Homo sapiens: one gene and its partner. The protein of the gene in region 1 purifies or fractionates together with the protein of each later gene. This does not show direct contact. Each region holds a gene or a part of one and is shown on either strand. Other genes may lie near its edges.

Region 1 (3,837 bases):
GAGAATGGTGATTATTAAAAAGTCAGGAAACAATAGATGCTGGCGAGGCTGTGGAGAAATAGGAACACTTTTACACTGTTGATGGGAATGTGAATTAATTCAACCATTGTGGAAGATAGCATGGCTATTCCTCAAGGATCTAGAATCAAAAATACCATTTGACCCAGCAATCCCATTACTGGGTATATACCCAAAGGAATATAAACCATTCTACTATAAAGATACATGCACATGTATGTTTACTGCAGCACTGTTTACAATAACAAAGACATGGAACCAACGGAAATGCCCATCAATAATAGACTGGATAAAGAATATGTGGTACATATGCACCATGGAATACTATGCAGTCATAGTACCATGCAGCCAATGAGATAATGTACTTTGCAGGGACACGGATGCAGCTGGAAGCCATCATCCTCAGCAAACTAACACAGGAACAGAATATCAAATACCACATGTTCTTACTCATAAGTGGGAGTTGAACAATGAGAACACATGGACACAGAGAGGGGAACAACACACAGCCGGGCCTGTGTGTGAGGGTTGGATGGCGAGGGAAGGGAACTTAGAGGATGAGTCAATAGGAGCATCAAACTACCATGGCATATGTACACCTATGTAACAAACTTGCACATTGTGCACATGTATCCTGTCTGAGGCGGGCAGATCACTTGAGGTCAGGGGTATGAGACTAGCCTGGCCAACATGGTGAAACCTCATCTCTATTAAAAATACAAAAATTAGCTGGGTGTGGTGGCAGGCACCTGTAATTCCAGCTACTTGGGAGGCTAAGGCACCAGAATAGCTTAAACCCAGGAGGCAGAGGTTGCAGTGGGCTGAGATTGTGCCATGGCACTCCAGCCTAAGTGACAGAGCAAGACTCCGTCTCAAAAAAAAAAAAAAAAGAAAACAATAATAATATTAAATGCCATTTCTGACAAACCCACAGCCAACATAATACTGAATAGGCAAAAGCTTGAAGCATTCCCCTTGAGAACTGAAACAAGACAAGAATGTCCACTGTCACCACTCCTATTGAGCATAGTACTGGAAGTCCTAGCCAGAGCAATCACACAAGAGAAAGAAATAAATGGCATTCGAATAGGAAGAGAGGAAGTCAAACTACTTCTTTTCATGGATGATGTGATTCTATATCTAAAAAACCCCATAGTCTCATTCTAAAGGCTCCTTACACTGATAAATAACTTCAGTAATGTTTTAGGATACAAAATCAATGTACCAAAATCAGTAACAATGTCCAAGCTGACAGCCAAGTCAAGAACATAATCCCAATCATAATAGCCACAAAAAGAATAAAATGTGAATACAGCTAATCAGGGAAATGAAAGATCTCTACAATGAGAACTTTAAAACACTGCTCAAAGAAATCAGAGATGATACAAATGGAAAAACATTCCATGTTCATGGATAGGAAGAATCAATATCATTAAAATGGCCATACTGTCCAAATCAATTTACAGATTCAATGCTACTCCTATCAAAATACAAATGACATCTAACACAGAATTAGAAAAACTATTTTAAAATTCATATGAAACCCAAAAGAAGCCTGAATAGTCAAGGCAATCTTAAGCAAAAAGAGCAAAGCTGGAGGCATTACTTGACTTCAAACTATACTACAAGGCTACAGTAACCAAAACAGCATGGTATTGGTACAAAAACAGACACATAGACCAATGGAATGGGTTAGAGAACCCAGAAATAAAGTTGAACACCTGCAATCATTTGATCTTCGACAAAGTTGACAATAACAAGCAATGGGGAAAGGATGGTCTATTCAATAATTGGTGCTGAGATAACTGGCTAGCCATATGCAGAAGATTGAAACTGGACCCCTTCTTTTTCCCATATACAAAAATTAACTCAAGATGGATTAAAGACTTAAATGTATAACCTACAACTATAAAAACCCTAAAAGAAAACCTAGGAAATACCGTTCTGGACATAGGACCTGGCAAAAATTTCATGATAAAGATGCAAAAATTTCATGATAAAGATGCAAAAATTTCATGATAAAGATGCCAAAAGTAATTGCAACAAAAAACAATTGACAAGTGGAACCTAATTAAACTAAAGAGCTTTTGAATAGCAAAAGAAACTATCAATAGAGGAAGCAGACAACCTAAGAATAAGAGAAAACATTTTCAAATTATGCATTTGACAAAGATCTAATATCCAAAGTCTGTAAGAAACTTAAGCAAACTAACAAGCAAAAAAACCAAACACCCCCATTAAAAAGTTAGCAAAGTACATGAACAAACACTTCTCAAAAGAAGACATACATGCATCTAATAAGCATATGAAAAATGGTCAATATCAATAATCATTAGAGAAATGAAAATCAAAACCATGATGAGATAGCATCTCACACCAGTCAGAATGGCTATTATTTAAAAGTCAAAAAATAACAGATGCTGGTGAGGTTGTGGAGAAAGAATGGTCATACACCACTGGTGGGAATGTAAATTAATTCAGCCATTGTGGAAAGCAATGTGACAATTTCTCAAAGAACTTAAAACAGAACTATGATTTGACTTAGGAATCCCATTACTAGGTATATACTCAAAGGAATATAAATCGTTCTATCAAAAAGACACATGTACCCGTATGTTCATTGTGCACCTATTCACAATAGCAAAGACATGGAATCTAGATGCCCATAAGAGGTGAACTGAATAAAGAAAATGTGGTACATATACACCATGGAATACTATGCAGCTATTGAAAAGAATGAAATAATGTCCTTTGCAGCAATGTGGATGCAGGTGGAGGCCATTATCCTAAGTAAATTAACACAGGCACAGAAAACCAAATATCACATGCTCTCACTTATAAGTGGGGGCTAAACATTGAGTTTACATGGACACAAAGAGGGGAACAATAGACACTGGGGCCTACTTGAGGGTGGAGGCTGGGAGGAGAGTGAGGATTGAAAAACTACCTATTGGGTACTGTGCTCATTACCTGGATGACAAAATCATTTGTAAGCCAAACCTCCATGATATGCAATTTACTTATGTGGCAAGCCTGCACATGTACCCCCTGAATCTAAAATAAAAGTTGGAAGGGGAAAAAAATCAACCAGAATACGACCCAGGTTTCCTGGATTTAAAGTCTAGTCTTCTCCACTACACTTATTCCTTCTCAAAAAAACAAAAACAAAAAACAAACAAACAAACAAAAAACATGTTTGTTTTTAAAGTATATTCTCTGACTTCTTATCTATGTTTAATAACTAAGACTGCCTAATAGTTCTTTAGGATGTCATTTACTAGCCACTTTTTAAATACCATTATATGGATCATTAAAGATATAAGTAAGAAGTATCATTTTTAGGAGGTAGTAGTATCTGCCAGGGATAGTGTGCCTTAGCATGTCATTCCCTAGCAAATAGTACTATTTTCGATCTGGTGTGTCACCAGATCTACGAAAACTTTTAGAGAAAAGTTTTATATTAAAGGGAAATGTGTATTGTTATTGTTATTTTATTCCCAAGTATGTGAGGAAATCCAATAATGATTTTGGCTTCTTGCCGATAGACTGAGCTTAAACTGAAAAAGTAGTCATGAATGATACTTGGGTTTTTCAAATCTAGGATGTAGAAATTTGGGAAAAAAAAATTCTTTTTTTTAATTTCTTTTTTCTTTTACCTTTAAAAATAAAGTCAGGGTCTCATTATGTTGTAAAGGCTAATCTTGAACTCCTGGCTCAAGCGATTCTCTTGCTTCAGTGTCTCAAAGTGCTGGGATTACAGGCGTGAGCCACCATGCCCAGCCAAAAAATTTTAATGTGGGAATTTTTAATGTCATCATA
Region 2 (3,837 bases), on another chromosome or scaffold:
TTCTTTTGTAAGTTAGGTATCATTAATCAGATATTTACTCATTTTAGCTTCTACCTGTTCTTCTCTAACATCAAGTGTCTCACTGGATGGCCCTATCCATTAGCACCTCAGGGCAGAAACATGGTAGTCATGTTCAAGTTTTTCTCTTTAGCATCCTACACCCAGTCTGATACTCAGTTCTGTCAAATTTATGTTTCAAATTAATTCCCTTGTCTCCAATACTAGTGCCACCACCTGAGGTGTAAGGCCCTCAGCAATTTTCATCTGGATTACTACTCCTCAAACATTTCAGCCTTCTGACTGGTCACCTGCTAATACCCTCTTTACAAATTAATTTTTCATAATTTCTATGTGCTAATATATATAAAATGAAGTTTATGGTTGAGTGAACTGTGTCATGAATACTTTAAATGATGAAAAAATTCCCAAGTTTCTTGGAATTTAACTATTTTGAATATTGCTACTTACTTTGGGAATGCATCAAAACAGTAGGTCTTCTTGGTATCAGGAAAGGCAACTCGCATTCCCGAAGTCAGAGGAGAATGAAGAATAACAGCAGCACTCTCATATCGAGCAGCAAGATCCACAGACGGTACTGTCCCTATACTTTGGCCATATATAATCACATTTTCAGGGCGAATGCCATATCTACAAAGTTCAGGCGTTAAAAACAAAAACCAAAAAAGTTGGAGTGATATGAAATGTTCCATCATTCCAAAGGATTTGATCTTAGAATAAGACAATGTCAACTAATCCATTTTTTAAACTTAAGTTTCTTAGCTATTACTGTTAGTTTTAACATTACAATAAAGTCTGTATCATCAGTTTATTTCATGTGTTTCTCTACTTCATCTTTTGGAAGAATAATTGCTGAGGTATTTTAAGATTTCAATCTTAAGAAATAAATTTATTAAATAATTTATTACACTATAATATTTCAACCTAGCTTACTGCTGACTAAGCTTGGGGCATATCACTAATATTTTAATGAACTGATGTTGAATGAATAGGTCATATTTATTTTCCGTTCAGTGTAACAAAAGTTATTTATTTCTCCACACATCAAGAGTGGCTCATTTTAATTTCCAAAATTGGTCATATTGATGAACTGTTACATATAGTTATGGTATGAAATGAATATATGTATGGTTTTAGTAAAGGGCAAATTATGATTTTACGATTTTTCTTAAAATTGATCTTTGCTTAGTTGTAGAAATGGACTAATGGTTGAAAAGATAAAAAAGAATTCCAAACACCACATGGTCCAATTATTTATGATTAGACTTTACGCTAAAATTACAAGGTACTATTTTAATCCCTTTAAAATGGCCACAGGTTTAAATAGATGAAAACTCATTGACTCAATAAATATTTATTGGGTACCTAGTATGTTCAAGGAACTGCTTGCTACTTGTCTACAGTATAATCATCCCAAATGTAAACTACTGCAAGTGTAAGTACAGTGCTACCTGAGCTAATGAATGTGGGCTTAAAGGTTATAGTGACATTAAATACACCTTTCCACTTAGAAGGCAGACAGCAGTCACTCTGGCAGCTAAGAACATAACAGCTGCTTTTGGAAATCTTTTGCAAAGGTAAAATATCTTTCTAAGAATCTGGATATTCACCAGGAAAGAGCGAGGGAAACTGTCCGTGTGTTCTCTTCCAGGGGCATAATACTATTTCAACTATACAGGTAGTAACACAGCTCTCCCCATATAGTTTCTTCAAGTCAGTACTACACAAGCATTTGTATAGGACACAGAAAGTGGGGCTCTGTCTACTTCAAATTGACTCTAAATATTAGCAAACTCAGAAAAGCTTTTTTCTTTACAACAGACCTAGTTGCACATATTTCATACGAATGAAGAAATTAGGAGAATGAACATTTGCAGCATGACCACAGTTCTTGAGGCTGCATTGTTGCTGTCAGCTGAATATCAGCATTGTTGGTGGCAATCATGAAATTTGGGCTACAGCTAGCAATGACAATGCTCAAGGATAGAGTCGCAGAGGTAGCTGACAATTAAGCATGAGGGGACTCACAAGAGTAACAACTGCCTAACAGTATGAGCTAGAAAGGAGTTTAGAGACCATCTAATCTAGAGTCCAGCTGCCTAATGAGCAGATCTTCAAAGTCACCAGTAGATGACAGCTCTATAATTAGAACCCAGGTATACTGACTCCCAGTTCAGTGTTTTTTACCTCTGAAGCACACAGATGAGGAACTCAAGGACTTTGTGGGAAAGGTGCATAGTGAATGCCAGGCCCCGAGTTTCTTTTGGTCCATCAGAAGGTCAGAAATTGGAGTTATTATGGATATCCAATTTTCCCAAAAAGGACATTCCAATGTTCATTCATCCCAAAAATGAACATTATTTAAGTTCATTATTTATTTTCTCTCTCCTGGTTACTTAAGTCCTAACTTTTAATCAGGCAAATAAAATAAAAGGCATGTATTCTAATTACACACATTTCATTAGATGACAGAATTCCAGAATTGGAAAAGATCTTGGGGATCATTTAATTCAATCTCTTCATTAAACAGATGAGGAAACACAGGCTCAGAGAAGTAATATTTCCTAAAGTACCTACACTTATGAAACTCCAACTATATTTTGGTTTCAACACGAAAGAAAACACAGGTCTAAAATTCTAAAATATAAGTGCTAAAATAGTATGTGGGATTATTGATGAAATCTGCCCATTCCTGATTAACACTGGCTATCAAATATGTTAAAAAAATTAAGGCTGAAAATCATTTTTCAAAGTTTTCTTCAAATTGGTAAATGCCAAGATTAAAAGAAAAGAAAAGAAAAAAACAGTAAAGTTGACCACTTAAAAAATGGGATTTTTTCATATAGACACAGAACACTGAACTGAATACTAACATGTTTTGTTTGAGTAAAGTGACCCTTTTGCGTTACTGGGAAGCACTAATAATGAAAGCTGGCTATCAGTTTTAACTTAGCACCCTTTAAAACTTCATTATTCCACTGAAGTTAACCTTTAAAAGTGTGAACCTTATCACTCAATAAAGCTATTTTTTTAATTATAATACTTTCTTATAGTTGTTATACGTTATTCAACTGACTGACTCTAAAAAGTGGGCACTCAGTTTCTGTTTGTTTTAAGGCTTGATGGAACTGATATCAATATATGTAAAAGATTTTTATTTAAAGCAGTTTTTAATTTATCAATTAAACAATAACTTTACCATCCCCCATCAACTCTTTACCTACTACTTGCCATCTTTTTTTCCTTATTCCCCATATTTATGTTTTTATATAATTTCAGTTGATTTTAAGAATCCCTTTTATGTAGAACTTCGCTATGAGAGCATAACTTTATTACATTTCTTTGGAGGGAAAAATAGTTTTAAAGATATTTTTAATATCTTTAATAATATTAACTACTTTATTATTAAAATTGAGGAAATTTTTCCTGACTAAATGAAATCTTTAATATTTAAACATTAAATTAGAAACAGTAAGTTTTCTTTATATCCTATAGCTTCAGTCTAAAACATCCTGGAAGTCAGATATTTTATTTTCATATAATATAAAGAATAGCCTATATTAAGGTATCTGTTTATTGTACACTAACCTGACTAATAATACACTGAAGTCTACCAAATTGTGATTTTTTTTTCAAGAAAAATGTTTAGGTATCTTGGTGACTAGAAAAGATTAATGCAATTTCTAGTTCCCCAAAATGTATGCTGCTATAATCAAAGAATAACTGACATAGTAAGAAAATTTTATTAAACAATTTATCATAACATTAAAACTTCTTTTTTTTTAAACAGAGTCTTACTCTGTCACTTGGGCTTGAGTG

The links.
Region 2: the proteins of LIPK (region 1) and ABHD17B purify together in Homo sapiens (affinity purification with mass spectrometry; one large-scale study listed by BioGRID and IntAct). This does not show direct contact.

Annotation. Positions count from the first base shown.
Region 1 is NC_000010.11:88,747,725-88,751,561, forward strand, and holds part of LIPK (lipase member K isoform 1 precursor), read left to right. Parts: intron 1-3,837. UniProt on the Homo sapiens protein: Plays a highly specific role in the last step of keratinocyte differentiation. May have an essential function in lipid metabolism of the most differentiated epidermal layers.
Region 2 is NC_000009.12:71,869,615-71,873,451, forward strand, and holds part of ABHD17B (alpha/beta hydrolase domain-containing protein 17B), read right to left. Parts: intron 649-3,837; coding exon 469-648; intron 1-468. UniProt on the Homo sapiens protein: Hydrolyzes fatty acids from S-acylated cysteine residues in proteins. Has depalmitoylating activity towards DLG4/PSD95. Has depalmitoylating activity towards GAP43. Has depalmitoylating activity towards MAP6. Has depalmitoylating activity towards NRAS.